Linked DNA regions of Homo sapiens. The protein of the gene in region 1 purifies or fractionates together with the protein of each later gene. This does not show direct contact. Each region holds a gene or a part of one and is shown in the gene's direction. Other genes may lie near its edges. The genes, in order: HIBADH, MGME1, NPEPPS, NENF, ATPAF1, PCDHGA9 and SERPINF2.

Region 1 (4,200 bases):
CCTGGTTCCTGAAAGTTTCTTTTATTAAAAAAAAAAAATCTAACAATTGACTTGCTAATATTAAATGAATGTTTACAATAAAAAATGTTATTTGCCCCTATTGAAAATAATGTATTGAAATCAGTGTGTTCTAGGTCAGTGGCTTCAAAGACTCCAGTTGGATTCATTGGACTGGGCAACATGGGGAATCCAATGGCAAAAAATCTCATGAAACATGGCTATCCACTTATTATTTATGATGTGTTCCCTGATGCCTGCAAAGAGTTTCAAGATGCAGGTGAACAGGTAAGACCTTTTCTTTAGATTTGTTTTAGATTTTGAGAATGAAAAATGAATATACATTCAAATAAGTGACAGCTTCTTAGAAGTATACCCAATGGAGTTGTAAACCTAATTCAGTGTTAATTTTATATATATGTAATCATTCATCCAACATCCAGATTTGCAGTAAAGGAGAGTTCTCGTTAGACATTCAGGGGTATCTATTCTTTGGCAGGTGACTTGGAACATTTTGCACATTTGGTCAGAGGGCCTTGTTTTAGCTCTGTATCAGTTTTCTGAGATAGTAACTTTACTGATTGTGCTGTTAAAGTAGTTAGTTTGGTGGAAATAACCTCCTGTGTTATTAAAAGCACATATGTCTTTAAAACAAGAGTAGGCTTAGAGATATAAAGCTTAGTTTGAGTTGAAGCTCAGATACATGCTTTCTTACTGGGGGCAAGTTACATCACTTCTGCTGATTTCCTCATTCTTAAAATGTGAACGATGACAACCTATGCCATTAGGTTGTGAAGCTCAAATGAGAGAATGTATGTGAACATACTTTGAAAACATCATATGGCAGCACTTTGTGAATAATTATTAGTTATTGGCCATAAACCAGGAGACAGCCTAAAAACACTATGTCCTATAATGAAGAGTTGAGTTATAGTGGATCTCTAGTGTTTTTAGGCTATCATTCATGTTTAAAGAATTTTGGTACCAGAGTTTATCATGTTGGATGATAACATCTGCTGGTTAAGTCTTGAGTTGTTTGGATTTGTTAAACTTTATCAATAACTCAAATTACAGGAGACCATGTATCAGTATCCGAATATAGTTTGTTTTTTCTAGATATGAGGGAAATTCTTCTTGGTCAAGTTGTAGAGTGGTAACTGAGGATAGTGTGTGATCCCAGAACAGAGAATACTAAAAAATTCCTGAGAAAAAGGTGAGAAAAAAATTACACAGCCAGCTTCTAGATAATAGACTTGAAAGTAAATACTGAAAAATGCTATACCTAGTTACAGAACAGCTTTAGGTAACTTAGAAGCCATTTTCAGAACTATATATCTGAATCTTTTTCCTTTCCATGGTTTTTGTGCCATATGGAAATTGCAGCAGTATAGTGTGAGGATGGAAGTATGACTTTGGAACTTTTCAGGGTAGTGTTGTGGCTGCTTCTGCCTGTTCAGTCTCTGAATACGGATATTACACTCCCAGTATAGCAGGCTTACAGGCTTAATTAATGTAGGGACTTAGTAGCCTTGTTGGAGAGATTTGATCAGTCGTATAGTAGAGAATCTGGGAAAGGCGGCCTTTTACCATCTTCAGAGATGGTGAGCATTTCAAGTTGATATTCAGTCTGAGATGAACCAATTAGTAGTTATTTTGAGGAGACAGTTATTACTTTTTGGGATAACACATCTATTTGGTATTGCCATTTTACAGTGGTTTATCTGTTAGTAAGAGTAACAAGGGTACTTGATCTCTAAACAGAGGAAATATCTTCAATTAAAAACAGAATTTAACCAAAGAGTGGGGTAGGAATTGAATGGGGACTATTACCCTAGACTGGCAAAGCAGAAGCTTGTGACCTTTTACGTTGTTACAGACACAGGTACTCTTCCCTCTATGCCTGTAGTACTTCCAGCTTGTATGTGGAACGACTGTAATGATCATCACTGCTTTGTGACTCTCTCCTGCTTTTTCCCAGAATTCTAGAGCTTTCTGATGCTCTGCCTGAATTACCTCATACTCTGAAGTTACCAGGCTTACCTCTGTTTCCCAACAAGTTTCTTATTTCTTTAGTGTTGCTAATTTTAGGTAGGTATGAAGGAAGGCTGCCTTAAGAATAAGGCTTATCCCTGCATGAAGGAGATATTTATGTTTTGAAAGGGAGAGAAAAGAATCTAATACAGTATTTAGTGAGCACCTACTATGTGTCAGGTCTTTTGCTAAATATTTTGTATGTATTATCTCATTTTATCTTTGCAACAGAAGTGCTATCAAGAAGCCAATGCTTGGAGAAGCTAAATAATATCCCTAATGTTATATAGTGGTTCTTATTATCTGCAGTTTCACTTTCTACGATTTCAGTTACCTATGGTCAAATGTGGTCTGAAAATGTTAAGTACAAAATTCAAGAAATAAACAATTTATAAGTTTTAAATTGCATGCCGTTCTGAGTAGCATGATGAAATCTTGTGCTGTCCAGCTCTGTCCCAACCTGGATGTGAATCATCCCTTTGTCCAGCGTCTCCATGCTGCAGACACTCCCTGGCCCATTAGTCACTTACTAGCCGCCTCAGTGATCGGGTGTTGTGATATCGCGTGCTTATTTTCAGGTAACCCTTATTTTATTTCATAATGGTCCAAAGCGCAAGAGTAGTGTTGCTCGCATATTGTTATAATTGTTCTATTTTATTGTTGTTGTTAATTTCTTACTGTGACTAATTTATAAATTAAACTTTATCATAGGAGTGTATATATAAAGAAAAACTGGCTGGGCGCAGTGTCTTGTGCCTATAATCCCAGCATTTTGGGAGGCCAAGGCAGGCGGATCACCTGAGGCCAGGAGTTCAAGACCAGCCTGGCCAATGTGGCGAAACCCCGGCTCTACTAAAAATACAAAAATTAGCCAGGCGCGGTGGCGTGTGTCTGTGGTTTCAGCTACTTGGGAGGCTGAGACATGAGAATCGCTTGAGTCCAGGAGGCGGAGGTTGCAATAAGCCGAGATTGCACCACTGCAGTCCAGCCTGGATGACAGAGGGAGACTCTGTCTCAAAAAAAAAAAAAAAAAAAAAAAATGCTGGGCGTGGTTGTGTGTGCCTGTAGTCCCAGCTACTTGGGAGGCTGAGGTGGGAGGATTACTTGAGCCTAGGAGGTTGAGGCTGCAGTGAGCTGTGTGCTCCAGCCTGGGTGATGGAGTGAGACCTTGCCTTAAAAAGAAAAAAAAACAAACCAGAAAACATAGTCTATATGTTTATATAACATAGTCTGTATAGGATTTGGTACTGTCTGTGGTTTCAGGCATCCACTGGGAGTCTTGGAATGTATACCTCTCAGAGGAGGGGTTACCACTGTGTAGTGAATGAATAGCAAGAGCCAATGTCTAAACAAAGGTCTTTGACTTCGGAGTTTTGGTTCTTTTTGAAATTAATGTGAAAGACATTTTTGAGTGTGTGTATGTGACATCTGTGTTGATGATTCTGAAATGTAGCTACCTGTTAACCTATTTATAAACTAGATTGCTGGAAAATAAGGTGCCTAGATCAGTCAAGCCACTGATCATTGGTCTCCCTTGCCTTCTCTTGTGTGGTTCTGTACCCACGGAGTTACAATTTAATAATATTTATCTATTGTATGGGTTGTTTAGTGGGTTGAATAGTGGCCCACCTCCCCAACCCCCAAAGATGTCCTATAAAATTGTTAGGAGAAAACACAGAGGTAAATCTTTATGACTTTGGATTTGGCGAAGGATTCTTAGATATGACACCAAGAGCATGAGCAACAAAATGATAAATAGGTAAATTGGACTTTATCAAAATTAAAAACTTGTGCTCCAGAGAACACCATCAATAAAGTGAAAAACAATTCACAGAATGGGATAAAATATTTGCAAATCATATATCTGATAAGGAATTTGTATCTAGAATATATGAAGAAGTCTTACAACGCCAGCATAAGACAAGTAACTCAATTAAATGGGCAAAGGATTTTAATAGACATTTCTCCCAGGAAGATATATGAATGACCCAGTAAACATGTGAAAAGATGCTCAACATCATTAGGCATCGTAGAAACATAGTCAGAACAGCCGGGTGAGGTGGCTTATGCCTGTAATCCCAACAGTTTGGGAGGCCGAGGCAGGTGGATCACTTGAGGTCAGGAGTTCAAGACCAGCCTGGCCAACATGGTGAAACCCTGTCTTTACTAAAA
Region 2 (3,503 bases), on another chromosome or scaffold:
CCAGCCTGGGCAAGAGAGTGAGACTCCATCTCGAATCTGTCTCAAAAAAAAAAAAAAAAACTTCTCAGTGGGGGGGTAGGAGGAGAAAAATTGTAAAAAAAAAAAAAGTTAAAAAATAGAACTCCTTGAGGTTTTTCCTTTTTTAATCTCTATTTTTATCCCATTGCTTAACGTCTTCCTTGTTCCTTTCCCACTTAAAAAAGCACTTTTTGGCTGGGCACAGTGGCTCACGCACTTTGGGAGGCCGAGGCAGGCAGATTGCTTGTGCTCAGGAGTTTGAGTCCAGCCTGGGCAACATAGTGAAACCCCGTATCTACAAAAAAAATACAAAAATTAGCTGGACATGGTGGCGCACACTTGTGCCAGCTACTTGGGAGGCTGAGGTGGGAGGATTGCTTGAGCCCAGGAAGTGGAGGTTCCAGTGAGCCGAGATTGTACCACTGCACTCTAGCCTGGCCGACAGAGCAAAACCCTGTCTCAAAAATAAATAAATAGGCCAGGTGTGGTGGCCCAAGCCTATAATTCCAGCACTTTGGGAGGCCGAGTTGGGCAGATCACCTGATGTCAGGAGTTCAAGACCAGCTTGGCTGACATGGCGAAACCCTGTCTCTACTAAAAATACAAAAATTAGCTGGGCGTGGTGGTGTGTGCCTCTAGTCCCACCTACTTGGGAGGCTGAGGCAGGAGAATCGCTTGAACCCAGGAGGCGGAGGTTGCGGTGAGCCAAGGTTGTTCCACTGCACTCCAGCCTGGGCAACAGAGCAAGACTGTCTCTCTCCAAATAAATAAATAAATAAATAAATAAATAAATAGCACTTTTTGGCCAGGGGTGGTGGCTCATGCCTGTAATCCCAGCACTTTGAAGGAGGCCGAGGTGGGCAGATTGCTTGAGCCCAGGAGTTCAAGACCAGCCTGGGCAACGTGACAAAACTCCATCATTACTAAAAATAGAAAAATCAGCCGGAAGTGGTGCCCGCCTCAGCTTCGAGGGTGCAACGAGCCGAGATTGTGCCACTGCACTCCAGCCTGGACGATGGGAGTGGGATCCTGTCTCAAAAAAGAAAAAAAAAGCACTTTTCCACCCTCTTCTTGGGCCTTTTTTTTTTTTCAATGGCTCTGTAAGGATCACAGCCCAGTCTTCAATGTTTTATCTGTCATCTTTGTGTTCTTGTGTCCTGGTGCAGTCTTTGATCAACCTACCTTAGAAACTGAGTTAGGAGATATCCTGTAGATTATTTTATACTGAGTTTGCCCTGGAGTAAGAAGGAAACGAACCTAAACTCTGGACCTACTGTAGTGAAACGAGAATTGCCCTGTGTTTCTTCCTAGGTTCAATGTGGCTTAATTGTGGTGGCCTACAAAGATGGATCACCTGCCCACCCACATTTCATGGATGCAGAGCTCTGTTCCCAGTACTGGACCAAGTGGCTTCTTCGACTAGAAGAATATACGGAAAAGAAAAAGAACCAGAATATTCAGAAACCAGAATATTCAGAATAGGGAGCAAGTTGCTATTTGGGAACATTCAGCACCTTCTCACAGTTTGGGAACATATATTGCTGTTTACTCCAGTGTAAAAATGAGGTGCCACTGGATCTGAGTGCTACACGAACACAAGTAGAAGTATTAATTTGTTGAAATGTGTTGTTACCAAAAAGACTGAAAAGCCCCAAAGTCTAGATATAAAGACCTAGACTTCGGCACGCGAAATCCCAGCTATGCTACCTCTTATTTACCTGAAAGGAGGACACGCAGGATGGGCAGTCATGCTGGTGACTCTTGTACTCCCTTGAGGGACATTGGGGGGGGGGGGGCGTGGTCCCAGGCAGGATGCCCAGTCTTTGAGCTGAGATTGGAAGGCAGTGAGGCTGAGGGTGCCAAGATTTCCCCAGGGTTCACCCAGAGGGGAAGGGGCTACATGCCCCCAGCTGTGTGCAGGGAGGACACATCAGCCCACTACCGCTGCCAACACCAATGCCTAAAACTTGTTTCATACATTGGGGTTTTCTATATATTTCAGCTGGGAAAAGCTTACATTTAACCTTTTGAAAAAATAAATACGTGATTAGCCTCAACTAAACATTGCTGACTATAAAGACAGTATATTCACCATGTCGCTGGCAATATGTCATTGCGTAACACCAAATAACCCCCCAGAAGTAGCCAGAGGCCAGTTTGAACATCACAATTCTAAGTGTTTTAGTAACTATTTCTGGCGTGAGTCAACAGATCATGTAGATAGAGTCAATTATTGTTTGTGGAGTTTTTCAGCTATAGGGGAGGGGAACTATTAAAATCCATTTGTTTCTATTCAATAGGTAATAAAAATTAGTTGTCCCTGGGTTTGGGAAACTTAAATGCCCATTACAGCCCTGGGGAAGGGTTTTCTGTCTTATGGAGTGAGTCTTAGCATTTAAGTTATACAGTTGCTGCCTTAAAATAGTAGCCTGCTACAATGACTTCTTTGGGTAGCCATTTTCATAAGAAATAAAATACAAGATATGAGTAATGAAGCTTTGGTTTTGTTTACTTTGTGTGTTTATAGGATAATTTTATAAACCTGGAAATTGTTTGCACTTTTTTTATAATTCAGAATTTTACAAGCCCAATAGCTTTGGTGAGAGTTCTGTGTAAGTGCATAAAAGAAAGCGTCCTCGGCTGGGCGCAGTGGCTCACGCCTGAAATCCCAGCACTTTGGGAGGCCGAGGCGGGCGGATCACAAGGTCAGGAGATCGAGACCATCCTGGGTAACACGGTGAAACCCCGTCTCTACTAAAAATACAAAAAATTAGCTGGGCGTCGTGGCGGGCGCCTGTAGTCCCAGGTGCTCCGGAGGCTGAGGCAGGAGAATGGCGTATACCCGGAAGGCGGAGCTTGCAGTGAGCCGAGATCACGCCACTGCACTCCAGCCTGGGCGACAGAGCGAGACTCCGTTTAAAAAAAAAAAAAAAAAAAAGCCTCCTCACTAAGCCCTCAGCCACGGTCACCTAGCAAGGAAAGCAATATTCAGGTAGGAGATGGGAGGATCAAGGGGGACCTTTGTATTATCTCTATACACTTCTGCATTCATGTGGGTTTTTCTCAAGCTGCAGATACATATTTCTGTAGCCTGTAAATTCCAGTCAAAAATGAAGTGAGGCAATTAAAAGTTGTGCTAGCAGAGTTTGCCACTCTGCTCTAATAAGCCTCAACCTAGAATTTAGGAGGCTAGACCTAACAAAATTTCTTTTTATTTTTCTTTTTTTTTTTTTTTGAGACCATCTGGCTCTGTCAGCCAGGCTGGAGTGCGGTGGGCTCACTGCAGCCTCCGCCTTCCGGGCTCAAGCAATTCTCCTGCCTCAGCTTCCCAAGTAGCTGGGATTACAGGCGTGCACCACCATGCCCTGCTAATTTTTGTATTTTTAGTAGAGACAGGGCTTCGTCATGTTGACCAGGGTAGTCTCAAACTCCTGACCTCAGGTGATCCGCCTGCCTCAGCCTCCCGAAGTGCTGGGATTACAGGC
Region 3 (3,535 bases), on another chromosome or scaffold:
AAAAATGGAAAGCCTTCGAATGGTTTATAAACAAGGCAGTGCCTTGATCTGATTTGTGTTATAAAAATTTCAGTCTGGCTGCAATGTGGATAATAGTTTGGAATGGGGAAGAGAAGATGTTGGGAAGCTAACTCTCCTAGCAAGAATGATAGAATAGCTTACAGTAGGGTAGTGGCAGTAGTGGAGGAGATGGAATAATGGAGATTCAGGGGCTTGAATTTGTTAACCATTTAGTTCAACAATATTTATTGATTGGCTTCTCTGTTGTGAGCATATCTGGGAGAGGAAGAAAAACAAGCCAGGATAATCCCCAGGTTTCTGGTGTATAAATGTTGGTACTACTCTGCGATGGAATGGAAAAAGACTTGAGGCCCTGAGAACTGAACCATGATTAGGAGCCTTGGAACAGTAGCAATTGTCATCTGTGTAAATAAGGTTATTGATTTCTAAAAGGTCTATGTTTAATCAGATGGATTAGTCATTCTGTCTTTCACACCTGTGGTGACTAATTCAAAGGAAAAGCCCTATCATTTTGCCAGCTGGTGTTTAAGAGTTGCTTTGTTTTCTGTGAAACCAGGTGTACTGCATTAGAAAAGTTTATTCAACTTTTAATCATTAAGCATTGTGATAAATTGTAAACTTAGAAATTGTTTGGTTTACTGTATTAAAAATGTTGGATTCCTGTAATTCCAGCATTTTGGGAGGCTGAGGTGGGAGGATTGCTTGAGTTCAAGAGTTCAAGACCAGTCTGGGCAACATGGTAGGACCCCATCTCTACAAAAAGGAAAAAACAATTTGGCCTGGGAGTGCACGCTTGTGGTCCCAGCTACCCAGGAAGTTAAGGTGGGAGGTTTACTTGAGCCCAGAAGGTTGAGGCTGTGATGAGCCATGATCGTTTCATTGCACTCTAGCCTGGGCAACAGAGTGAGACCCTGTCTCAAAAAAAAAAAAAAAAAAAAGACCATGGGGTGTTAAATTATTAGGGCATAGCAGCAATTTAAACTTCTTTGTATTATCATCCCTTACAAATTAATCTTTATTTGAAGCAGCCAAAATGTGTTGAATCCTTAAGTACTCTGTGCTAGGTATTTTGTCAAATGTTTATATGGATTGTCTCTTTAATCTTCTGGAGTAGATATTTTCTCATAGTTGAGAAAACTGAGACTTAGAGCAGTTAATTTTCTCACAGTCACAAGCTAGTACATGACTAAGCCTGGATTCAGGTTCCAAGTCTTCATTCCAAAGACTATATTTACCACTACACAATTAGCCTAAAAGAAAGGCAGTAGGTTCTGTCTCTTTATTAACTTTTGATTAGGTTGTTAAGCATATAATTAAGGGGAGAATTCCTATATGCAGGTCCAAGGAGTTGCTTGTTTTCTTTTAGCCTGAGGGTGGCAGTGGTAAATTCTCATGCCTGAAGATTATGCATCCTTCATATAGACCAGTGGGTATTTTTTCATAACCTGTAATATTAACTTCTTATTGCTAGTAATGATCCTGCATTCTGGGTTGTTTTATACCAGGCTTTCTTCGAGAGTCACCCAGCTCCTTCAGCTGAGCGTACCATCCAGCAGTGTTGTGAAAATATTCTGCTGAATGCTGCCTGGCTAAAGCGAGATGCTGAGAGCATCCACCAGTACCTCCTTCAGCGGAAGGCCTCACCACCCACAGTGTGAATCCTGAGGTGCCGCCATTGGCGGTTCTGCTGCTTCGCTGCAGGGATAAGGTGGAGCTACCGAACAGCTGATTCATATGCCAAGAATTTGGAGTCTTCTTTCAAACCAGTGGGGGTTGGACAATGAATGTAGTTAACTGGTTCCTGCTCACACTCCAGAATTAAATTCTATTGAAAAAGGAAAATCAGCAATTCAGCAAAAAATAAATAAAAAATAAAAATGTAAATATGATAGTAATAAAATAGAGCATAACGAAACTGTGAAACTTTCTGAAGCCTTGTCAGTGGTTAAAAGTATTTAACACTCTACTGTTAATGACAGATGTTCTGTTTTTATAACCTACCAAAAGGAAACTAGAGGCTTCTTGGTGAAGAGCATTTTTGTGAAGTGGGTTCTGCAAGGAGCCTATAAAGCCAAGGGTGGTGTCCATTTCTGGGAATGGTTAAACACAAAAGGCTGATAGCTGGTATCACATAGTTGGAGTCAGTGCATAATTCCAAGTGGCTTTTTTTTTTTTTGGCACGGGGACTGATCAGGAAGATATATTCCTGCATAACTCAATCTGAACCAAGGATTGTAGTTTAGTTTTCCTCCTTGCCTTCCCTTCTGTGTGACCGACCCCTTGGCCAAAAAAAAACAAAAAGCAAAAAACAAAAACCTACCCTGTTCTGGTTTTTTTCCTCCCTTTAGTTCCACCCCCAACCCCCATTCCCTGGTGTCCTTCTTAGAGATGAAGAAATAATAAGGAAACATCTTTCATAGCCACATTAAATAAGAGAAACTGATATACATTATTTTTTTCTTTTTAAAGATGACTTATAAGAACCCTGAAATTTATATAGGTGAGACAATAGAAATAAAAAGATCTTCAGCCAGGCCTTTCTGAAGGAGTTATTCTGCTAAAAATGGTCTTAGTTGTCTGAAAAGCCAGCTCTTGAACCTCTTCACAACAGTATCAACACTGGCTTCTCCCGGTTCATTTTATGCGTGCGAGAAGTCAGTGGTAACTGCTGCAGGGCTTAATACATTAGTGGTAACTGGTTTAAAAAACAAAGACTGTAAGCCTGTGTGTGCCACTGTTTGCTTCAACAGTATATCCTAATAAGCCTCACCTATTTAATCCAATGAGTTTTAAATCTAAATCTCATTCCCTTCTTCTTTCCCTACCTTTTTTTTCTTTTTTTCTTAAAAAAATATTTTGTGTTATTAACAGAAATTCATATTTGGTGTGGCTTAACGGTATTTCAGAAGGTCATCAGATTGTGAGACTGCTTCCTTGAAACATTTTTGTGCTATTGTTTTAAAAAAATAATTAAAAAACAGTTGGCGTTAATAAAAATGTCAATGTGAAACTGATGTCCTGATTCACTTTATTCTCTTTCTTTGATAAGAAACTAAAAACTTTCCTATCATTCAGTAGGCTTATGCAAAGTTATACTATCATAGGATTTTTCAAATTCAAAAAAAATCCAGTTCCTTAATTCCTAATTTATAGATCTTAACAGAAAAATCCTGAGATTCATTCTAAATCAGTTCTACATTCTCAAAACTCTCTCAGAGACTCTTATAGTCAGCATTCAGGAATGAACTTGAGACTTCCTCAGTCCCTAGTTTTGAGGCACCCTAGTTCAGGCACCATGCTCAGGGCTGCCCTTAGGCTCTCAAATGTTCTTAAGGCACCAGTGAAGCAGGGGCACCAAAAAGACTGAGAAAAATGCAGGTTTAATTGAAGAACTCAGAATTTTGCAATCAGAAATTCTGGAAACAGGTTATTTTACTTTCAGCATACATGTGATTTTTGTCTGTAATAATAGTTAAGTAGTTTGAATTACGTTCAGGGAGAGGTTATACTAGAT
Region 4 (4,779 bases), on another chromosome or scaffold:
GCGACTTTCCCAGGAAGATAGGCACTCTTCACAAGATGTTTATGGTTGAGGAAATGAGATAATGGAAAAAGGCATTCTTAGTTTAAAAATGAGTTTCACTTTAAAGATAACAGTACACCCATAAATTCTCCCTGAAGTCAATAGTTACACAAGAGAATAACAATACTAATAGTCTGTAACAAGCTGATCATAGGCTTTTGTAATGAAGTACGCTAGTTTTAGCCCTATAAAAGCAAGCATTACATTGAAGGCAGAGGTGCTCCTATATAAACAATACTTGCTTAGTACTACTTCAAAGCAAGGATACTACTCAGAAACACAGTAGTACTATTATTAGAAATGGAGTAGTTTCTAATGAACTATTTTAACTACTATGCTCTGCGACTTGCCCTGATTCTTTGCCGTGGACGTCTAAGAACCTGCTCTTGGGTCTGGAATGAGACCCTTTTTCTGTTAATTCCTCTATTCCAGTCTTGAAAGTAAAAGCCAGTCTTGAAAATAACCTGTGAAGCCCCCAAGATCCACCCCCACTCCCTTACCCGCTTCCTTCCTGACTTCACCTACCCCTCTTACCTTCCCTTGATCCTCCAGCAAGCCGGGCATCCTCATTCCTCCGCATTTATGCACCTGATCCTTTGACCAAAGTGCTCTTCCCTCTAGACCGCCTCCTTCGCCTCCTGTAGATTTTTATGCAAATACCCTGTTCTCAGTGAGGCCTTCCCTAACCTGCCTATTTAAAATGACCATCCCCATAACCGGGCACCGTTCCTCACACCTGTAATCCCAGCACTTTGGGTGGATGAGGTGGATGGTTCACTTGAGGCCAGGAGTTCGAGACCAGCCTGGCCAGCATATAGTGAAACCTCATCTCGACTAAAAATTAAAAAAAAAAAAAATTAGCCAGGCGTGGTGGTGGGTGCCTGTAATCCCAACTACTCTGGTGGCTGAGGCAGGAGAATCACTTGAACCCGGAAGGTGGAGGTTGCAGTGGGCCGAGATGGCGCCACTGCACTCCAGCGTAGGCGACAGACTCCGTCTCAAAAATAAATAAATACATAACAATAAAATAAAATAAAATGTCCATCCCAGTGCTCCCTATCTCTTTGCCCTACTTTTTCTCCCTAGTATTTACCACCATCTAACATACTACTTAGCATCTTATTGTCTATCTGCCCACACAATGTAAGCTTCACGTGGGCGTGGATCTGTCTTGTTCAGTGGTGAGTCCCCAGTGACCTGGTACATGGAGGTACTCAAAAATATTTGTTGCATAAAGTAATGAGCAAAGTTTGGCACAAATGTTAGCTATTATTATTTCAGGGCGTATCGGTAACAGCACCCTACCCTTTGCAAAAATCTCCTTGGGAACCAGAAACTTAAACACAACCAGGAAGAAAAAAAATCAGCCAAAAATAAAAGCGAATTAAGACAGTTGGGGTCTTATTTTAGAAATATACCTTTCTAGGTTCTGGTATGTTGGGCTCTGTCATCTTTCTACCTGATCAAGGAACCACTGTGACATTTTTTGGTAACTTCCAGTCTGTAGTTTGGATTTAGGAGTTCAGGATTCCAATCCTAATTTCCAGGTTCCAGCTGCGTGGCCCGAGTAGCCCGGCCAGCCCCACCCCGGGGCGCAGGAGGCGCGCGAAGGGCGGGAGTTCTCGGGTCCCCGCCCTCGGGGAGGCTCTGGGCGCGGGGCGGGACTCCGGGACGCTGGGCGGGCGTGCTAGGGCCCCGCCGCCCTGGCCCGGCCTTGCCTTGCGCTGCGCGCTCACCATGGTGGGCCCCGCGCCGCGGCGGCGGCTGCGGCCGCTGGCAGCGCTGGCCCTGGTCCTGGCGCTGGCCCCGGGGCTGCCCACAGCCCGGGCCGGGCAGACACCGCGCCCTGCCGAGCGGGGGCCCCCAGTGCGGCTTTTCACCGAGGAGGAGCTGGCCCGCTATGGCGGGGAGGAGGTAGGCGGGGGTGTCGCGGGCCGAGGGACCCGGGGTGGCGTCCGATCTGCGGCGAGCCGAGCGGGGACCCAGGAGGCGCCGGCGGCCCAGGAAGCTCTGGGGGACGCGCGGCCCGCGGCGGGCGCCCTGGGCCGGCGGGGGGCCTCCTCTCTCTAGGCCCCGAAGGATGGCCGAGGGGTGAGGACGAGTCCTCAACAGTCGGAGCGCTCCGCTTTGCCCGCACACCCCACCCTGAACTTCTCCCTCGGTCCCCGGGAGATTTCCCCTCTAGCCGCCTTTTCGTTGATGATCTGCGTACAGACCTCAGAACTTTTTGGTTTTCATGTTAGCATCAGCCGAGGCGTTTACTGTGCCCACGCATAGTGGGGAGTGGCGGGGGACGGAGGGAGGGAAGCAGAGCCTGCTCCCTGGGTTAGGTGGGAATTGAGACAGGTCCTGGGATAAGCCAGTCTTTGCCTGCACTTCCTTTTCCTGCCCCTGTATCCCAGGCCTCTGCATCGGACTCCTCAAACCCACTTTTAGGTCATGTACCCCTGGGGCTCAGCCAAAGCTGGAAGTGAGCGCAGAGGGTGGACTGGAGGTTAGAGACCCCCACAACCCCCCCGCCACACGTCAATAGAGACCCCCCCGCCCACACACACCCACACACGTCAATAGTCTAGAGGCGTCCAGAAAACTCACAACCACCTGCCCACCTGGGTTGGTTGGGACTGGAGCCGCACGACAAGGACCAACAGGGGGCTGATATTAGATGTGGAGCGGGGGAACGGCATTGGGGGGAGGTCATAGTACCATAGTATTTCAGAGCTGGCAGGAACCCATCTCCTGCTTTTACACATAAGGAAACTGAGGCCTGCCACCTGTTAGTGGTAGAGCAGGAAGAGGCCTGATGTTTTTCAAAACCCTCTGGCCTGGTCTCGCTAATTCCTGAGTTAATTGGCCTTATATGGACTAGGATTGCATGGGGGTATCAGAAACCTGGCCCTTAGTCAGTGATGCCAGTTTGGGCATCATTTGTGAAGGGGCCATTTAGAACCATGAGTCAGTGAGGACACCGAGGGAGGGAGACATGGCTGGGATGTGAGGATGTTAAGGGATGCCTTTTTGCCGGTAGCAGAGGGAACCAGATGGTTCAGAGTCCAGGCATCCGTGCAGAAAAGAATTAACATGGCAGGCCTGCTCTCCTTAGAAAAGCCTACTTGCAAGGGTGGGACTTGTCTAGTGTCTGGATTTCTCACCCTTCCCTACCCAATAACGGTGGACTCACTTGCCTAGGCCGTATATACAGATGGTGTGGTTAGTATTGAACACTGTATATGCTAGGCAGAGGGTGCCCCATGTGACCAGCCCCCAGTGAAAACCTTGGGTGCTGAGTCTAATGGGCATCTCTAGCAGAGGAATGTTCTGCCAGAAGAATGGCACATACTGTCAAGTTTTGTTGCTGGGGGAAGAGTGTGCTCTTCCTCATGGGAGGGAGAGAGCATAGGAAACCTGCACATAGATTCCCCTAGATTCTCCCTCTGTGTTTTTCCTTCCCAGCTGTGAGTAGAACTATATGCTGGGTTCTTGGAATCTTCCTTCTAGGGACTCTCCAACTGACCCGATGATCTTTGGGACCACTGGCACAAGAATCTAAGGAAAGAGAGAGTTCACCACTGAGGTTACAGCAAGAGTGCCAGAACTGCAAGATGAGGACTGAGAAAAGACCCTTGGTTTTTTGATGTTGATGTTATAGATTGAAATTTAACTGAGAGAGAGAGGACCTTGAGATGGAAACAGGGGTAGGAAACAATTGTTTTGGGAGTGGAGCCTGAGGATCTCTGTAGGTGGAAGGAAGGAGCCAGAGAGAGGAGGGGAGCGAGGGACGAGAGAGGCAGTTGAGTGCAGTGGGTTCAAGCTGTGCTGCGCTGTTGTTTGACCTAGATTGTTCTGGTCTATGCCTGTTATCCAGGGATAATTATTAATAACACCCTTTCACTCAGAAGTGTGACAATTTGTATAATACATTGGATCATACCTGGTTTTGAGTCCCTGTTCTGCTGTGTGATTTGGGGCAAATTACTAAACCTCTCTGAGTCTCCACTTTGTTCGTAAGATACTTGGATTAGTCCAGGTTTCACCAGGGAACAGAACCATTTGGATATCTATATCTATACAGTTGATCCTTGAGCAACACAGGAGTTCGGGGTACTGACCCCCATGCAGTCAAAAGTCTGCATATAACTTTTTTTTCTTTTAGAGGCAGGGTCTTGCTGTGTCGCCCAGAATGGAGTGAGTGGCTTTTCACAGGCAGTCATGGTGCACTAGAGCCTGGCAATCCTGGGCCCAAGCGATCCTCCTGCCGCAGCCTCCCAAGCCGCTAGTATTACAGGTGTGCACCCAGCCATGTATAACTTTTGACTACCCCCAAAACTACAGTTTTTTTCCTTTTTTTTTTTTTTTTTTGAGACAGGGTCTCACTCTATTGCTAAGCCTGGAGTGCAGTGGCAGGAACACAGCTCACTACAGCCTCCTCCTGGGCTCAAGCAGTCCTCCTACCTCAGCCTTCCCAGTTACTGGCATTACAGGTGTGCACCACCACACCTGGCTATTTTTTAAATTTTCTGTAGAGATGGGGTCTTCCTGTGTTGCCCAGGCTGGTGTCAAACTCCTGGGCTCAAGCAACTCTTCCACCTCAGTTTCCCAAAGTGCTGGGAATACACGTGTGAGCCTCCATGCCTGGCTCAAAACTTAATTACTAATAGCCTACTGTTGACCACAAGACCCAAGAACATAGTCGATTACCACGTATTTTGTAAATGTATTATATACTGAATTCTTACAGTA
Region 5 (4,825 bases), on another chromosome or scaffold:
AGTCCAAGTACCACCATCTCTCACTTGGATTACTGTTCCCTGTAGGGTGACCAACATCCTGGTTTGCCCAGGACTTGGGGTGGGTTCTCAGGACATGGGGCTTTCAATGCTAGAGCCAAGAAAGTCCTAGGCAAACTGGAATAAATTAGTCACCCTTGGGAGAGTTTCCATCCTTGCCTCCACATATCCTAAATCCCACCAGCAGCCAGCATGATCCTTTTAAAAAGTAGATCATGTTACTCCACTGCTTAAAACATATAGTAACTTCCGATCTCATTCGATTTAAAATCAAAGTCCTTAACCAAGGCCTAAGCAATCTAACTAGCCCTCCCTATACCTTCTTGGTCTCATTTCTGCTGCTGTGCCCTCACTCATTCAGACTCAATAACCTCCTCATCAGGGCCTTTGCACTTGCTGTTTCCCCTACCTGGAAGGCTCTTCCCCCAGCATTCCCACATTACCTTCAGGTCTCTGCTCAAGTGTCCCCTTATCTCTATCTCTCTTGGCCTGCTGTTTTTCTGCATACCATGTAGCATCACCTAACATTATATATTTACTGTCTGTTTCACTCCACTAGAATGTAAGCTCAATGAATTAATATAAACAAGGATCTAAGAACTTCAGATAATGATAACTGCTATAAAGAGAATGCAATAGAGTGATGGGATAAAGACTATAAAGAGATGGAGGGGTTGTCATTTAGGTCCCTTGGAGGTGCTTACATGTGAACTGAGCCCTTAGATGATGAGGAGGCAGCCACATGCAGATCCACAGAGAAAACAGCAAGTGTTAGGAGTGTGAGCCAGGTATGGGCTGGCATACTTGAAGGACTTATTCATCTTCCATTACACTGTTCCTCGCACAGGGCAGGGCTCAGGGCTGATCTCCATGAGCATAGGTTGGATTGAGCAGAGTTGAAGGCTCTGCCCCTGTCCCAGGAGGGGCTTCAATCAGACAAAACCCAGACAAGAAGGACCTGATGATGAGTACTGTCCCAGAGAGCCCACTCCAGGACTGGCCCTGTTCTGTGAGCAGGTGGGACACAGAGATGTTAATGTCACTGTCCCTGACCCTAGGAGCTCACACCTGGTTCAGACGGTAAGGAAGATTGTGGCATTTGGGTTGAGAGAATGGAAGGAGAGAGGATTCCAGGGGTCAAAAAGGGCCTGAATAAGGACTCTTCAAGGAGTAATCCTGGTGTTTCTTTGGGAGAGAATAGGTCACTGTGGCTGGAGTTCAAGGAGGATGTCAGGAAGCAGAGGAAAAGGAGGCTTGGGAGGCAGCTGCCATCTTGAAAAGAGCTCAGCTGTCGGGTAGAACTTGAACAAGTCACATAATTACTCTCGGCCTCAGTTTCCTTATTTGTTAGATGAGGATAATACTGCCACACAGAGTATGAAGCCGCTCAGTGTCCTGCACATAGCAACCTCAGTAAAGAGAAGCTTGCTGCTGTGATTATAGTTGATGAAAAGACCTTCGATGCTGAAGGACGGACTACTACATCGAGTGCCTGGCACTACAGCGAGTGCCAGGGGCAAGCACCGCGAGGACATGGAGATCCGCTGGCTTTAGAGAACGGACTTGGCGCGCAGAGGCTGCTGGTCCCAGAGGGAGGAAGGGCGTTGAATTTGGGCAGCCTCCCTGGAGGAGGCGGGCCGTGGCATACACAGGGCGGCGAGAGCGCGCAGTGCCGGGGCCAGAGCGGCGCGCCCCCTCCTCCCCGCCCCGCCTCGCCGCTATCCCGCGCCCGGAACCTTGGGCGCGCGGAACCTCGGTGCCGGAGCGCGGGCGCGGCGCACTCGGAGCGGGATGGAGCGGGCGCGCGGGCCGCGGGCCGAGGCCGACGCGCCTGAGGAGGAGGAGGAGGCGGGGGCGGCCATGGCTGCTGTGGTGGTGGCGGCTGCGGGTGGCGCGGGACCGGCGGTCCTGCAGGTGGCCGGTCTCTACCGGGGCCTGTGCGCGGTGCGCAGCCGCGCCCTGGGCCTGGGGCTCGTGTCACCCGCGCAGCTGCGCGTCTTCCCAGTGCGCCCCGGCTCGGGCCGGCCCGAGGGGGGCGCCGACAGCAGCGGGGTCGGGGCCGAGGCCGAGCTCCAGGCCAACCCTTTCTACGACCGCTACCGCGACAAGATCCAGCTGCTGCGCAGGTGCGGGCCTGGGTTGGCTGGAGGCGGGCAGGAGGCGGGAGGAGGGGCGGCCCGGGCTGCTGGGCCTTAGGACAGCCCTGTGAGGTGGGCACTAGTACTGTCCCAGCTCTTCAGATGATGTAGCCAGGCTCCGCGAGGCTAGGTCACTTGCCCAAGATCACACAGCTAATTGGTGTCAGAGCTGGGAGTCTCTGCAAAGCCCTGGCTCGTTCCACGTTTGTCTGCTTTGGTTCTCCAAACGCTAAGGTGGACTCTTATGACAGCCCTGAGGCAGGCAGCTCAGAGACACCTGTCCTCATTATAGAAATGGGAAAACGCCTTCTAGAGAAGGGACTTGACTTGCTCAAGGTCACATATTAAGATAGCTGAGGCCTGGCTCAGAGCTGGAGTTCCCAGGCTGGTGGTAGCTTAGGGCCTTGACTGCAAGGAAAGGCGACTGGGGATGGGAGGAGGGCATCAAAGACTAATAGTGTCACAGTCGGATCACCCATTGAACCCTCTTAAGGAGACTGAGGATCAGCGAGAGTAAGAGACTTGCCAAAGGTCACACAGCTGTTTGGGATTTGTCTGACTCTGAGTCCAGGGTCCCTAACACCACCTCTTAGCTTCCAGAGGGAAGGATCTGGAGCTTAGAGGGGCTTAAGGTGCATATGAGGGGCTATAGGAGCATCTGAAGAGTTCAAGTGGGAAGAGCTAAAGGAGATCAGAGGTGAAAATTAAAGGGGCTTGGGAGAGAATTTAGCAGGGTAAGAAGGTAGTTGTCTTATGAAAGGAAACCAAAGACTTAGTACTGTAAATTTGAGTTCTGTCTCATCTCTACTTCCACTGCCTTAATCTACTCCATCATCGTCACCTGGGCTGTTGCCATTATCCTCTAACTAGAGTTCCCTACTTCCATTCCTGGACTACTTTACCCCAGTTCCTCTCACTGCTACTGTAGTGATCTTTCTTGCCATTTGAAACAGTTATGCAGTAAATGAATGAGTATTTTTGCTCTCCTTCCAGCAGCATTGAGATAGTCTCAAGTATTTGTCATCTTAAAAGCCTTTCTTTGATGTACATTCCCCTCCAGGCTTCTCTCGTTGATCTGTATTTGATCTGTTTTACACACAAGCATCTCTGAAGAGTTGTCTACTTGTACTTTGAATACTTTATCAGCATCCATTTATTCTTACCCACTCATGAACAAATAAATAACTGGTTTTACCGTCCTTCCCCACTGGATCATTCCCATCAACATTTACACATACTGTTATCCCCCCACTGACCTCTAAATAACATCCAAACTCCTTAATGTTTCACACAAGTTCCTCATACCCTAGTCCCTGCCAGTCTCTCTCTAGTTTTATCTGTTAGCAAACTTCCTTTGAAAAAGAATGGAGAGGAGGGGATGTTCCAGGTAAGGGGAGCAGCAACATAAACAAAGGTACAGAGGCATGAAACCACCTTAACCATTTGGGGATGTTTGAGCAAATTTTCATCATAATACCTGTTGTACTTTCATTTGTTTACTTTTATGCCTGTCTCTCCCACTGGATAGTGAGCTCCTTGAGGTAGGGAGTCTGACTTATTTATTTCTATATCCTCAGATCCCAGCAACAGCTTCACTGCCCAGGCTGTCCCTTGCCCTCTCTACCCCTTCACTATGGCAGGCCCAGTTGCAGCTGTAGCCACTAGCAGGGTTGACCCTGGTCCTGGTACAGCCCCCAGGGCTGCTTGCAGCTCTGGCCAGGCAGGTGCCATGCCCGACTAAGCAGAAACCCCTGGTGAGGCTCTTTATTGAGGAGGAGCCGGCCCACTACAGAGAGAAGAAAAACATCCCATCTACATGACAGTGAAGGGAGTGGTGTTTTATGTCACCTCCAGAAAGGAATTTTATGGAAGAAGGGGCCCCCTATAATGCATTGACCAGGAAAGTCCACCAGAGGGATAGCCAAGATGTCCCTGGGTCCTCCAGACCTCACCCATGAAACTCTGGGTCTCATGGCCAAAGAGCTGGAATCCCTGGATGATATCTTCACCAAAGTGTACAAAACCAAATATCCCATGGTTAGCTACACAGTCTGAAGAATTCTTAATAGGGACAGCACCCCAGCCTGGACTTCAAACCTGAAGACCAACCCCATTTTGACATAAACAATGTGTTCTGTTGTTTCATCTCCAAGAGCAGCTTCTTTGGAGGGTAGGTTAGGGAGATACTCAGATGCTAAATCTTCTGCAAAATAGGCTACCTAAAGCCTCTGAATCACCAGGATCTGAATAAAGCAGATGTTTAACCTGGTTGGGGGGACATATTTTCAAGAACTGGATGTATTCAAGTAAAAGCTTGACACCTAGTAAGGAGGCTATAGGATTCTTGTCTGAAGAGGTGATCCAGCAAGATGACCTCAAAATTCTAAGTACCCTGAATGTAAGTACCTGAGAGACTAAGCCCTGTGTAAACCTAGGGAACAGCCTGCAAAAGAAAAATGTTACACAGGCCCCTTGAGGATTAACAACAGTTGAATAACAGGATTTCTTTTTCCAGTTTCTTTATTTCTAGGCCTGTGCCCAGTTCTTACTAACTGAAGGCAAATTTTTCAACCTCTCTGAATGGCAGTGTCCTTTCTCTGTAGAGGTGGAAAGTGATGCTTTGTTATTTTAGAATTCAAAAAGGCCCAGTTGGTTTACCCTTTGGTTTA
Region 6 (4,200 bases), on another chromosome or scaffold:
ATTGGATGAGAAAACAGGTATGATTAAGAATAACCAGTCATTTGATTTTGAAGATGTAGAAAGGTACACCATGGAAGTGGAAGCGAAGGACGGAGGTGGTCTCTCTACCCAGTGTAAAGTAATCATAGAAATCCTTGATGAAAACGACAACAGCCCAGAAATAATCATCACTTCTCTCTCTGATCAGATTTTGGAGAATTCACCTCCAGGAATGGTTGTTGCCCTCTTCAAAACACGGGATCTGGATTTCGGAGGAAATGGAGAAGTCAGGTGTAATATAGAAACAGACATTCCATTCAAGATTTATTCTTCTTCCAATAACTACTACAAACTGGTGACAGATGGAGCCCTGGACCGAGAGCAGACACCAGAATACAATGTCACCATCGTAGCCACTGACAGGGGCAAGCCGCCTCTTTCTTCCAGTAGAAGCATCACCTTGTATGTCGCTGACATCAACGACAACGCCCCAGTTTTCGACCAGACGTCCTACGTGGTCCACGTGGCCGAGAACAACCCGCCAGGAGCCTCCATTGCGCAAGTGAGCGCCTCTGACCCGGATTTGGGGCTCAATGGCCACATCTCCTACTCTATAGTGGCGAGTGACCTAGAGCCCCTGGCGGTGTCGTCATACGTGTCAGTGAGCGCGCAGAGCGGGGTGGTGTTCGCGCAGCGCGCCTTTGATCACGAGCAGCTGCGCGCCTTCGCGCTCACGCTGCAGGCCCGCGACCACGGCTCGCCCACGCTCAGCGCCAACGTGAGCCTGCGCGTGTTGGTGGGAGACCGCAATGACAACGCACCGCGGGTGCTGTACCCAGCTCTGGGTCCTGACGGCTCCGCGTTCTTCGATATGGTACCTCGCTCTGCAGAGCCCGGCTACCTAGTGACTAAGGTGGTAGCGGTGGACGCCGACTCGGGACACAACGCCTGGCTGTCCTACCACGTGCTGCAGGCCAGTGAGCCCGGACTCTTCAGCCTGGGGCTGCGCACTGGGGAGGTGCGCACGGCTCGAGCCTTAGGCGACAGGGACGCAGCCCGCCAGCGCCTGCTGGTCGCTGTGCGTGACGGTGGACAGCCGCCACTCTCTGCCACCGCCACGCTTCATCTGGTCTTCGCAGACAACTTGCAAGAGATACTGCCAGACCTCAGCGACCGCCCTGTACTCTCTGACCCCCAGGCTGAACTGCAGTTTTACCTGGTGGTGGCCTTGGCCTTAATCTCAGTGCTCTTCCTCCTCGCCGTGATTCTGGCCATTGCCTTGCGCCTGCGACGCTCTCTCAGCCCTGCTACTTGGGACTGCTTCCATCCTGGTCTCTGTGTCAAGTCTGGACCTGTAGTTCCCCCCAACTACAGTGAGGGGACTTTGCCTTATTCTTATAATCTGTGCATTGCACATACGGGTACAAAAGAGTTTAATTTCCTAAAATGCAGTGTGCCCCTACATTCCAATGAAGACATGGTTTGCAGTGTTTCTCCTGGAGCCTTAATTCCACCTCATGGTGGGGAGGATTTGACTTCACATCCTGAGACTCTGACTTCGGTGAGTTTCTCTTTTTTGTGTGTGATTTATCTAATAGTCTACTAGTTTCTCATATTTTAGGCATACTACTTTATTTTCATATCTAGAATCATATGTTTAAAATCCATAGCTTTTTACAATATTTTCTCAATGTTTTTTCAATTATAGTTTTCACTATGTATTTGGTTCATAAGTTGCTCTATCTTTTTGTAAAATAATGTCACCAGACTGAAGATATTTTGTCTTTGTCTTTTTTTTTTTTTTTTTTTTTTGAGATGGAGTCTCGCACTGTTGCCTAGGCTGGAGTGCAGTGGCGTGATCTCTGCTCACTGCAACCTCCGCCTTCTGGGTTCAAGCGATTCTCCTGCCTCAGCCTCCCAAGTAGCTGGGATTACTGGTGCCCCTCACCACAGCTAAATTTTTTGTATTTTTAGTAGACATGGGGTTTCACTATGTCGACCAGGCTGTTCAGAAACTCCTGTCCTCGTGATCCTCCCACCTTGGCCTCTCAAAGTGCTGGGATTACAGGCGTGAGCCACAATATTTTGTCAAGTTCTGACTATCGAACAGAAGCAGTGGTCTTGGCATCTAAGAAAACAAACAAGTAACCTATCTATTCAAATTTGCGAAGACTTAGTGAATTTACGATATCTTATTTATATATTTTTAAAGCCTAAAAATATTCAGAAGACAGGCCCAGTGGCTCACACCTATAATCACAGCACTTTGATAGGCTGAATCGGAAAGTATCACTTGAGCCCAAGAATTGAGACCAGCCTGGGCAATATAGGGAGACCCCCCATCTCTACTAAAACAACAACAACAAAAAAAAACATTAGCAGAGTGTGGTAGCATTCCCCTGTGGTCCCAGCTACTTGGGAGGCTGAGCTGGGTGGATTGCTTGGTCCTGGGAGGTCAAGGTTGCAGTGAGCCCTGATCTTGCCACTGCACTCCAGCCTGGGCGACAGAGTGCGACCCTGTCTCTAAAATAAATAAATAAATATGCAGGCAGGGCCAAGTGTGCTGTAATCCCAGCACTTTGGGAGGTGGAGGTGGAGAATCTCTTGAGCGCAGGAATTTGAGACCAGCCTGGGCAACACAGGGAGACTCCATCGCTACAGAACATTTAAAAATTAGCAGGGTGTGGTGGCACATGCCTGTGGTCTCAGCTACTCTGGTGGCTGTGGTGGGAGAATCGCTTGAGCCCAGGAAGTCTAGGCTGCAGTGAGCTGTCTAGGTGACAGAGTGAGACCCTGTCTCAAAAAAAAAAGACATTTCTAAGAAATAAATGAAATACTATTGCCTTTGCACTCAGTCTCTGTCTCTGATTCTCTGATAGAAGATTTTTGAAGAAAAAAGATAAAATCTTTGAAGAGTTCTATACTTGGAAGGCATAGTGACATAAACACTTCTGAACATCCTGTTCTCTGTGTGAAAGAAGTGAACTTCTATACCCTTTGCATTTGAGGGAACAATTGCTACTGGGTTGATGGGCACACACAGTTGAAGATATGTGAACCACTGGACTTTGGCCTCTGATACAAACTGCCTAAGAGAAGAGATTATTTATACTGGTATTAATGCTCTGATGAAAACAGGTCATTTGACATAAACACTTACTTGTTAAAAACCTATATCACTACATCTAACTTTGTTTTCTAAAACTTTTAGTACTTCAAATTCTACGTATTTCTTTTCTCATTACAATGCAAACAGTTTAATTTGCAACTGTAATATATGTTCATTTTAGTTTGTGATTACCTGCTTAATCATTTAAATAGGTCCATTTAACTTGTATCCCTGTAAGATAAAGTATGTTTTACACAAAAAGGTTAATTAAGGCTCAGTAAAACTATTCTAGAAGAGTACTTTAAAAACCTCTTACACAATCCTAAGCTAAATAAGTTTAATGAATTAAGTAGTTACAATTATAAAGCTTCAGAGTGAATTATCTCATGAGTTTATTTAATATAATCTTTGTATGAATGTATACTAAATAAAATTGGCCTATTCAAATCACAATTTTAAATTATAAGACTTTTCTGAATTTACCTAGACACTAATATGACCTAAAATAAGTATTATTTACCTTTTATTAAAGTGTGTACATTTCTGTTGGGAAAACGTGTTGCAAATATATATTTAACCAAACATTATCTTGAAATATTTACAATATTTTCACTCCACTTTATCACACCTCCCCTAAGAAACCTACATATAGTAAATTATTTAAAGATAGGAGTGGAGAAACCAAAGAATCTATGTAAAATATAATAATCCAACAGAATAGTTTACTTTCCATTGCATGTATCACTTGGGTGCAGTAACTTCTTAGGACTCTGAGCGCCGCTGTTCACCTACTAGGAGAGAAAACGCAGCCAGAGCTCAATCCGGATTCTCAGGGCTTCAACTACACAAGCCCCACAAACCGGCTGCTGGGCTGCAGGGAAGCTCACTCCAGAATTTAAAGTGCCCAGGCTACAGAGACACCCTGAAGCCACAGAAAGACAAAGGAACCGGTTGAAACACACAACGTGTCCAGTGAGGACTTTGCAGAATTCTGTAACCAGACTACAATGGCCGCTCAAAGGAATCGCTCAAAGGAATCAAAGGATTGCAGCGGGCTGGTCCTGCTCTGCCTTTTCTTCGGGATTCCATGGGAGGCTGGAGCCCGGCAGATC
Region 7 (4,806 bases), on another chromosome or scaffold:
CAGGGAGTGAGGCGCAGGACAGTGAGGGTGGGAAGGGGCCTGATGCAGGGAGTGAGGAGCCGGACAGTGAGGGTGGGAAGGAGCCTGATGCAGGGAGTGAGGCGCAGGACAGTGAAGGTGGGAAGGGGCCTGATGCAGGGAGTGAGGCGCAAGACAGTGAGGGTGGGAAGGAGCCTGATGCAGGGAGTGAGGCGCAGGACAGTGAGGGTGGGAAGGAGCCTGATGCAGGGAGTGAGGAGCAGGACAGTGAAGGTGGGAAGGAGCCTGATGCAGGGAGTGAGGAGCCGGACAGTGAGGGTGGGAAGGAGCCTGATGCAGGGAGTGAGGAGCTGGACAGTGAGGATGGGAAGGAGCCTGATGCAGGGAGTGAGGAGCAGGACAGTGAGGGTGGGAAGTGGCCTGATGCAGGGAGTGAGGCGCAGGACAGTGAGGGTGGGAAGGAGCCTGATGCAGGGAGTGAGGAGCAGGACAGTGAGGGTGGGAGGCGGCCTGATGCAGGGAGTGAGGAGCCGGACAGTGAGGGTGGGAGGCGGCCTGATGCAGGGAGTGAGGAGCAGGACAGTGAGGGTGGGAAGTGGCCCGATGCAGGGAGTGAGGCGCAGGACAGTGAGGGTGGGAAGGAGCCTGATGCAGGGAGTGAGGAGCCGGACAGTGAGGGTGGGAAGGAGCCTGATGCAGGGAGTGAGGAGCCGGACAGTGAGGGTGGGAAGGAGCCTGATGCAGGGAGTGAGGAGCAGGTGTGAGGGCGGGAAGCGGCCTGATGCAGGGAGTGAGGAGCAGGACAGTGAGGGTGGGAAGGGGCCTGATACAGGGAGTGAGGAGCAGGACAGTGAGGGTGGGAAGGAGCCTGATGCAGGGAGTGAGGAGCCGGACAGTGAGGGTGGGAAGCAGCCTGATCTTTGCACGGGCTGCCAGGCTTCTGGTTCATACAGCCCCAGGTCAGTTTCCAGAACCCTCGCTCTTGGGTAGGGGAAAGAGACATTGCTCTGGAGTGGCAGGACGGTGGGAGAAGTTGAGTCCCTCTCATTTCTCCTCCCTCACCCCCTGCCTTCCATCCCAGTCTGAAGGCAGCCAACCTGATCCTGGGCTTGGAAGGTTGGGGGTGGGCTTCCTATCCTGGGCTCTCTGCATAGGCTCTTGTGGCTTCCCCTTTCCTCCCCTCAGGAGCGGGAGGCAGCTCTCTGGGAGAAGAAAGGACATTGGGAGTGAGAATCTGGATGTGCCTCAGCCCAGCTCTGTGTCCTTGGGCAGGTCACATGGCCTCTCTGAGCCTGGCTGAACCAGGGATAATCCACACCTCGTGGGGTCTCTGGAAGGCTTAACACAGTGCTAGGTTCCTGTGCTTTCTGGATCCGCCCTCTTGGCTAGCCAGATCCAGTCTCTTCAACTCTCTCCTCCTGAACTTTCTCTTTCCAGGCTCGGGGGGGGGGACCCAAATATAGGGGGTTCTGCGTGGCTGCCTCAGGGTTAGATGCCCTGGTGGGAAAGGGGCTTCTGGCTTCAAGATCAATGTTTAACTGGATGTGCAAGTCAATATTTACCAGAAGAGAAAGCAATCTGAACAGGGGTTGGCTGAGAGTAAAGGTCCTGGTGGGAGGGGAGGGGTGGGCTGGGCCAGCTGGAGCCTGGGCAGAGAGTGAGGAGCACCCAAGTGGGGCCAGAGGAACGTTGTGTGTGGCAGCAAGGAGCCCGCAGAGGTATGAGGGGAGGGGCTGCTCGGCCTGCTCCTTGGGTAGGAGAGGAGGAGGGAGCTGCCTCCCTGGCTGAGGGGTCTGGGATTTATTCAGGAGGCCTGTCACTCCCCAGCCTCTTCTGGGACTTGAAAAACTGGAGCCTGTTCTTGGCAAGAAGATTCTAATGCCCAGGTCGGAGTCGGGGCCCTGGCCAAGGGCTCTTGTGTGGGATGGGGGTGGGGCCGGGGGGACCAAAGGATCCTCCAGAAGGGTTGGCCCCAAGATGGGGGTGGGCTGGAGGTAGCTGAGACCTGCTCTGACTTATCCTCCTGAGACCAACACCTGCCCTTCCCAGAGCCAGCCTGGAGCAGAGGCCTGTGATGCTCCTAAGTGCAGAGGTGGCTCTGGCCAGAGTCATTCACTGGGCTCTGCTGCTGGGTCAAAAGGCAGCTCTCTGGCTGCCTTGCCACCCATGGTGAGACCTCAGGGCCTCACAGGTATGTCCAGCCTTGTGGGCAAGACCTGACCAGCCTGAGAAAGACGGGTTGGGGCCAGGCGTGGTGGCTCATGCCTGTCATCCCAGCACTTTGGGAGGCTGAGGCAGGTGGATCACCTGAGGTCAGGAGTTCGAGACCAGCCTGACCAACATGGAGAAACCCTGTCTCTACTAAAAATACAAAATTAGCCAGGCATGGTGGCACATGCCTGTAATCCCAGCTACTCGGGAGGCTGAGGCAGGAGAATCGCTTTAACCCAGGAGGTGGAGGTTGCAGTGAGCCGAGATCGTGCCATTGCACTCCAGCCTGCATGATAAGAATGAAACTCCATCTCAAAAAAAAAAAAAAAAAAAAAAAAGACAGGCTAAATGGATGCAGCAGGCTGGGTAGGAGCTCTGTGTTGGAGCTCTGCGGTGGAGGCTTCAGGGCAGGCTTCCCAGAAGAGGTGGCCTTGAGCCAAGCTGACCCCAGCCATCGGGGGAGTGCCAAGCATTGTACTCAGGGTTTACAAAGATGGTCTTATTTATTTTTTTGAGACAGAGTCTTGCTCTGTCGCCCAGGCTGGAGTGCAGTGGCGTGATCTCGGCTCACTGCAACCTCCGCCTCCCGGGTTCAAGCAGTTCTCTGCCTCAGCCTCCCGAGTAGCTGGGATTACAGGGGCCCACCACCACGCCTGGCTAATTTTGTATTTTCAGTAGAGATGGGGTTTTACCATGTTGGCCAGGCTGGTCTTGAACTCCCGACCTCAGGTGATCCACCTGCCCCTGGCCTCCCAAAGTGCTGGGATTACAGGCTTGAGCCACCGTGCCTGGCCACAAAGATGGTCTTTTGCCGGGTGCAGTGGCTCATGCCTGTAATCCCAGTACTTTGGGAGGCCGAGGCAGGAGGATCACCTGAGGTCGGGAGTTTAAGACCAGCCTGACTAACACAGAGAAACCCCGTTTCTACTAAGAAATACAGAATTAGCCAGGCGTGGTGGTGCATGCCTGTAATCCCAGCTATTCGGGAGGCTGAAGCAGGAGAATCGCTTGAACCTGGGAGGTGGAGGTTGCGGTGAGCCGAGATCCTGCCACTGCACTCCAGCCTGGTCAACGAGAGCGAAACTCCGTCTCAAAAAATAAACAACAAAAAATCCCAAAAAGACGGTCTTATTTTGGTCCTCACCATGCATGTGAGAAGAGTGAGGGACTTGTGCCACCGTTTTACAAGGTAAGGCCAAGCCTGGTGGAGTTACGGGAAATGCCGAGGTCCTTTGGCAAGAGGTAGCCTGGATTCAGACACAGATCTGATTCACAGCGCAGGGCCTTGTAGAATGAGAACGTTTTTGATTTGGTATCTCCCTCCTATTCACCAAAACACCCTCAGTGCATGAAATGCATGAAATATGAAACACCAGAAACTAAAAAGGGGGAGAAGCCAGGGCGGATGTCCCAGCTGCAGGAGTGGGAGCCGCTGCTCGTGTGTTTGGGGTCTGTTCTGATTCTGGAGCCTGCTTCTTCCCCTTGGCAATCATGACCCAGGACTTGGCGTTATCTGTGATCGCGTGGGTAGGATTCCCTGGCGGGCGTGGGGATGTGAGATGGGAACAGAGCTTTCTGTCCCTGCCACAGGAACATGGCGCTGCTCTGGGGGCTCCTGGTGCTCAGCTGGTCCTGCCTGCAAGGCCCCTGCTCCGTGGTGAGGCTGGGCTGAAGTCAAGGTGGGGTGGGGTGGAGGGGGAAGAAGAGGGGCGTTGGCATGGAGGGAGGGCTTGGCTCCGAGGGGACCTCCTATCCTCATCCCTTTCTCCACAGTTCTCCCCTGTGAGCGCCATGGAGCCCTTGGGCCGGCAGGTACTGGGGAGTGAGGAGCCTGTGATGGGGGGAAGGTCCCGGGGGTCTCACTGGTGGCTTGGGCAGGGTGGGGGGCCTGTGGGAAGGGTCGGTCTCCATCTGCTTGCTCCTTTCCGCAGCTAACTAGCGGGCCGAACCAGGAGCAGGTGTCCCCACTTACCCTCCTCAAGTTGGGCAACCAGGTACAACCAGGTGGGGCTGGGGAAGAGTGGGCGGGGCTAGAGGGAGGAGGGCCCATCGGCAGGGGTCGGGGGGTGGGGGCGCGTGCTGAGGCTGAGGCTCTGGAGTCCAGAGGCCAGAAGGGAGAGAGGGTGGGGAGGACCGAAGGTGGGCGCCAGGCCCCAGAATGCCAGTGCCCTCCGTCTGACGCTCCCTCTTCCCTGGGGCTGGGACAAGGCCCTGCTGTCCTCAGGCACAGGGGCTGTGACAAGGCCTTCAACACAGAACCTGGAGCTGACCCCTTGACCTCCCTGACCCCTGATCTGTCCCTGCAGGAGCCTGGTGGCCAGACTGCCCTGAAGAGTCCCCCAGGAGTCTGCAGCAGAGACCCCACCCCAGAGCAGACCCACAGGCTGGCCCGGGCCATGATGGCCTTCACTGCCGACCTGTTCTCCCTGGTGGCTCAAACGTCCACCTGCCCCAACCTCATCCTGTCACCCCTGAGTGTGGCCCTGGCGCTGTCTCACCTGGCACTAGGTACCCTGGCACCACTTGTCCAGACCAAGAGAGCTGGGAGGCCAGTAGGAACTCAGTACTCCAATGGTTCTCCGCGGGCGGTTCCTCCACCAGGGTCACGTGGCTGTT

The links.
Region 2: the proteins of HIBADH (region 1) and MGME1 purify together in Homo sapiens (affinity purification with mass spectrometry; one large-scale study listed by BioGRID and IntAct). This does not show direct contact.
Region 3: the proteins of HIBADH (region 1) and NPEPPS fractionate together in Homo sapiens (co-fractionation; one large-scale study listed by BioGRID). This does not show direct contact.
Region 4: the proteins of HIBADH (region 1) and NENF fractionate together in Homo sapiens (co-fractionation; one large-scale study listed by BioGRID). This does not show direct contact.
Region 5: the proteins of HIBADH (region 1) and ATPAF1 fractionate together in Homo sapiens (co-fractionation; one large-scale study listed by BioGRID). This does not show direct contact.
Region 6: the proteins of HIBADH (region 1) and PCDHGA9 purify together in Homo sapiens (co-immunoprecipitation; one large-scale study listed by IntAct). This does not show direct contact.
Region 7: the proteins of HIBADH (region 1) and SERPINF2 purify together in Homo sapiens (affinity purification with mass spectrometry; one large-scale study listed by BioGRID and IntAct). This does not show direct contact.

Annotation. Positions count from the first base shown.
Region 1 is NC_000007.14:27,645,558-27,649,757, reverse strand, and holds part of HIBADH (3-hydroxyisobutyrate dehydrogenase, mitochondrial isoform 1 precursor), read left to right. Parts: intron 1-124; coding exon 125-285; intron 286-1,133; exon of another isoform or gene 1,134-1,210; intron 1,211-1,827; exon of another isoform or gene 1,828-1,912; intron 1,913-2,548; exon of another isoform or gene 2,549-2,606; intron 2,607-4,200.
Region 2 is NC_000020.11:17,988,610-17,992,112, forward strand, and holds the end of MGME1 (mitochondrial genome maintenance exonuclease 1 isoform 2 precursor), read left to right. Parts: intron 1-1,329; coding exon 1,330-1,500; coding exon of another isoform or gene 1,501-1,577; 3' UTR 1,578-2,513; downstream 2,514-3,503. UniProt on the Homo sapiens protein: Metal-dependent single-stranded DNA (ssDNA) exonuclease involved in mitochondrial genome maintenance. Has preference for 5'-3' exonuclease activity but is also capable of endonuclease activity on linear substrates.
Region 3 is NC_000017.11:47,620,242-47,623,776, forward strand, and holds the end of NPEPPS (puromycin-sensitive aminopeptidase), read left to right. Parts: intron 1-1,285; exon of another isoform or gene 1,286-1,526; coding exon 1,527-1,679; 3' UTR 1,680-3,035; downstream 3,036-3,535. UniProt on the Homo sapiens protein: Aminopeptidase with broad substrate specificity for several peptides. Involved in proteolytic events essential for cell growth and viability. May act as regulator of neuropeptide activity.
Region 4 is NC_000001.11:212,431,168-212,435,946, forward strand, and holds the start of NENF (neudesin precursor), read left to right. Parts: upstream 1-1,752; 5' UTR 1,753-1,776; coding exon 1,777-1,953; intron 1,954-4,779. UniProt on the Homo sapiens protein: Acts as a neurotrophic factor in postnatal mature neurons enhancing neuronal survival. Promotes cell proliferation and neurogenesis in undifferentiated neural progenitor cells at the embryonic stage and inhibits differentiation of astrocytes.
Region 5 is NC_000001.11:46,665,376-46,670,200, reverse strand, and holds the start of ATPAF1 (ATP synthase mitochondrial F1 complex assembly factor 1), read left to right. Parts: upstream 1-1,878; coding exon 1,879-2,144; intron 2,145-4,322; exon of another isoform or gene 4,323-4,552; coding exon of another isoform or gene 4,553-4,554; intron 4,555-4,825. Other genes in the region: TEX38 (testis-expressed protein 38), read right to left, coding at 723-762. UniProt on the Homo sapiens protein: Has a complex stabilizing activity in the assembly of the mitochondrial F1-F0 complex.
Region 6 is NC_000005.10:141,409,081-141,413,280, forward strand, and holds part of PCDHGA9 (protocadherin gamma-A9 isoform 1 precursor), read left to right. Parts: coding exon of another isoform or gene 1-1,585; intron 1,586-2,858; coding exon of another isoform or gene 2,859-2,882; exon of another isoform or gene 2,883-3,541; intron 3,542-3,906; exon of another isoform or gene 3,907-4,095; coding exon of another isoform or gene 4,096-4,200. Other genes in the region: PCDHGB6 (protocadherin gamma-B6 isoform 1 precursor), read left to right, coding at 1-1,540; PCDHGA10 (protocadherin gamma-A10 isoform 1 precursor), read left to right, coding at 4,096-4,200. UniProt on the Homo sapiens protein: Potential calcium-dependent cell-adhesion protein. May be involved in the establishment and maintenance of specific neuronal connections in the brain.
Region 7 is NC_000017.11:1,741,212-1,746,017, forward strand, and holds the start of SERPINF2 (alpha-2-antiplasmin isoform a precursor), read left to right. Parts: upstream 1-1,659; 5' UTR 1,660-1,697; intron 1,698-1,787; exon of another isoform or gene 1,788-1,857; coding exon of another isoform or gene 1,858-1,865; intron 1,866-3,122; exon of another isoform or gene 3,123-3,335; coding exon of another isoform or gene 3,336-3,379; intron 3,380-3,780; coding exon of another isoform or gene 3,781-3,784; coding exon 3,785-3,847; intron 3,848-3,963; coding exon 3,964-4,002; intron 4,003-4,121; coding exon 4,122-4,184; coding exon of another isoform or gene 4,185-4,194; intron 4,195-4,496; coding exon 4,497-4,698; intron 4,699-4,806.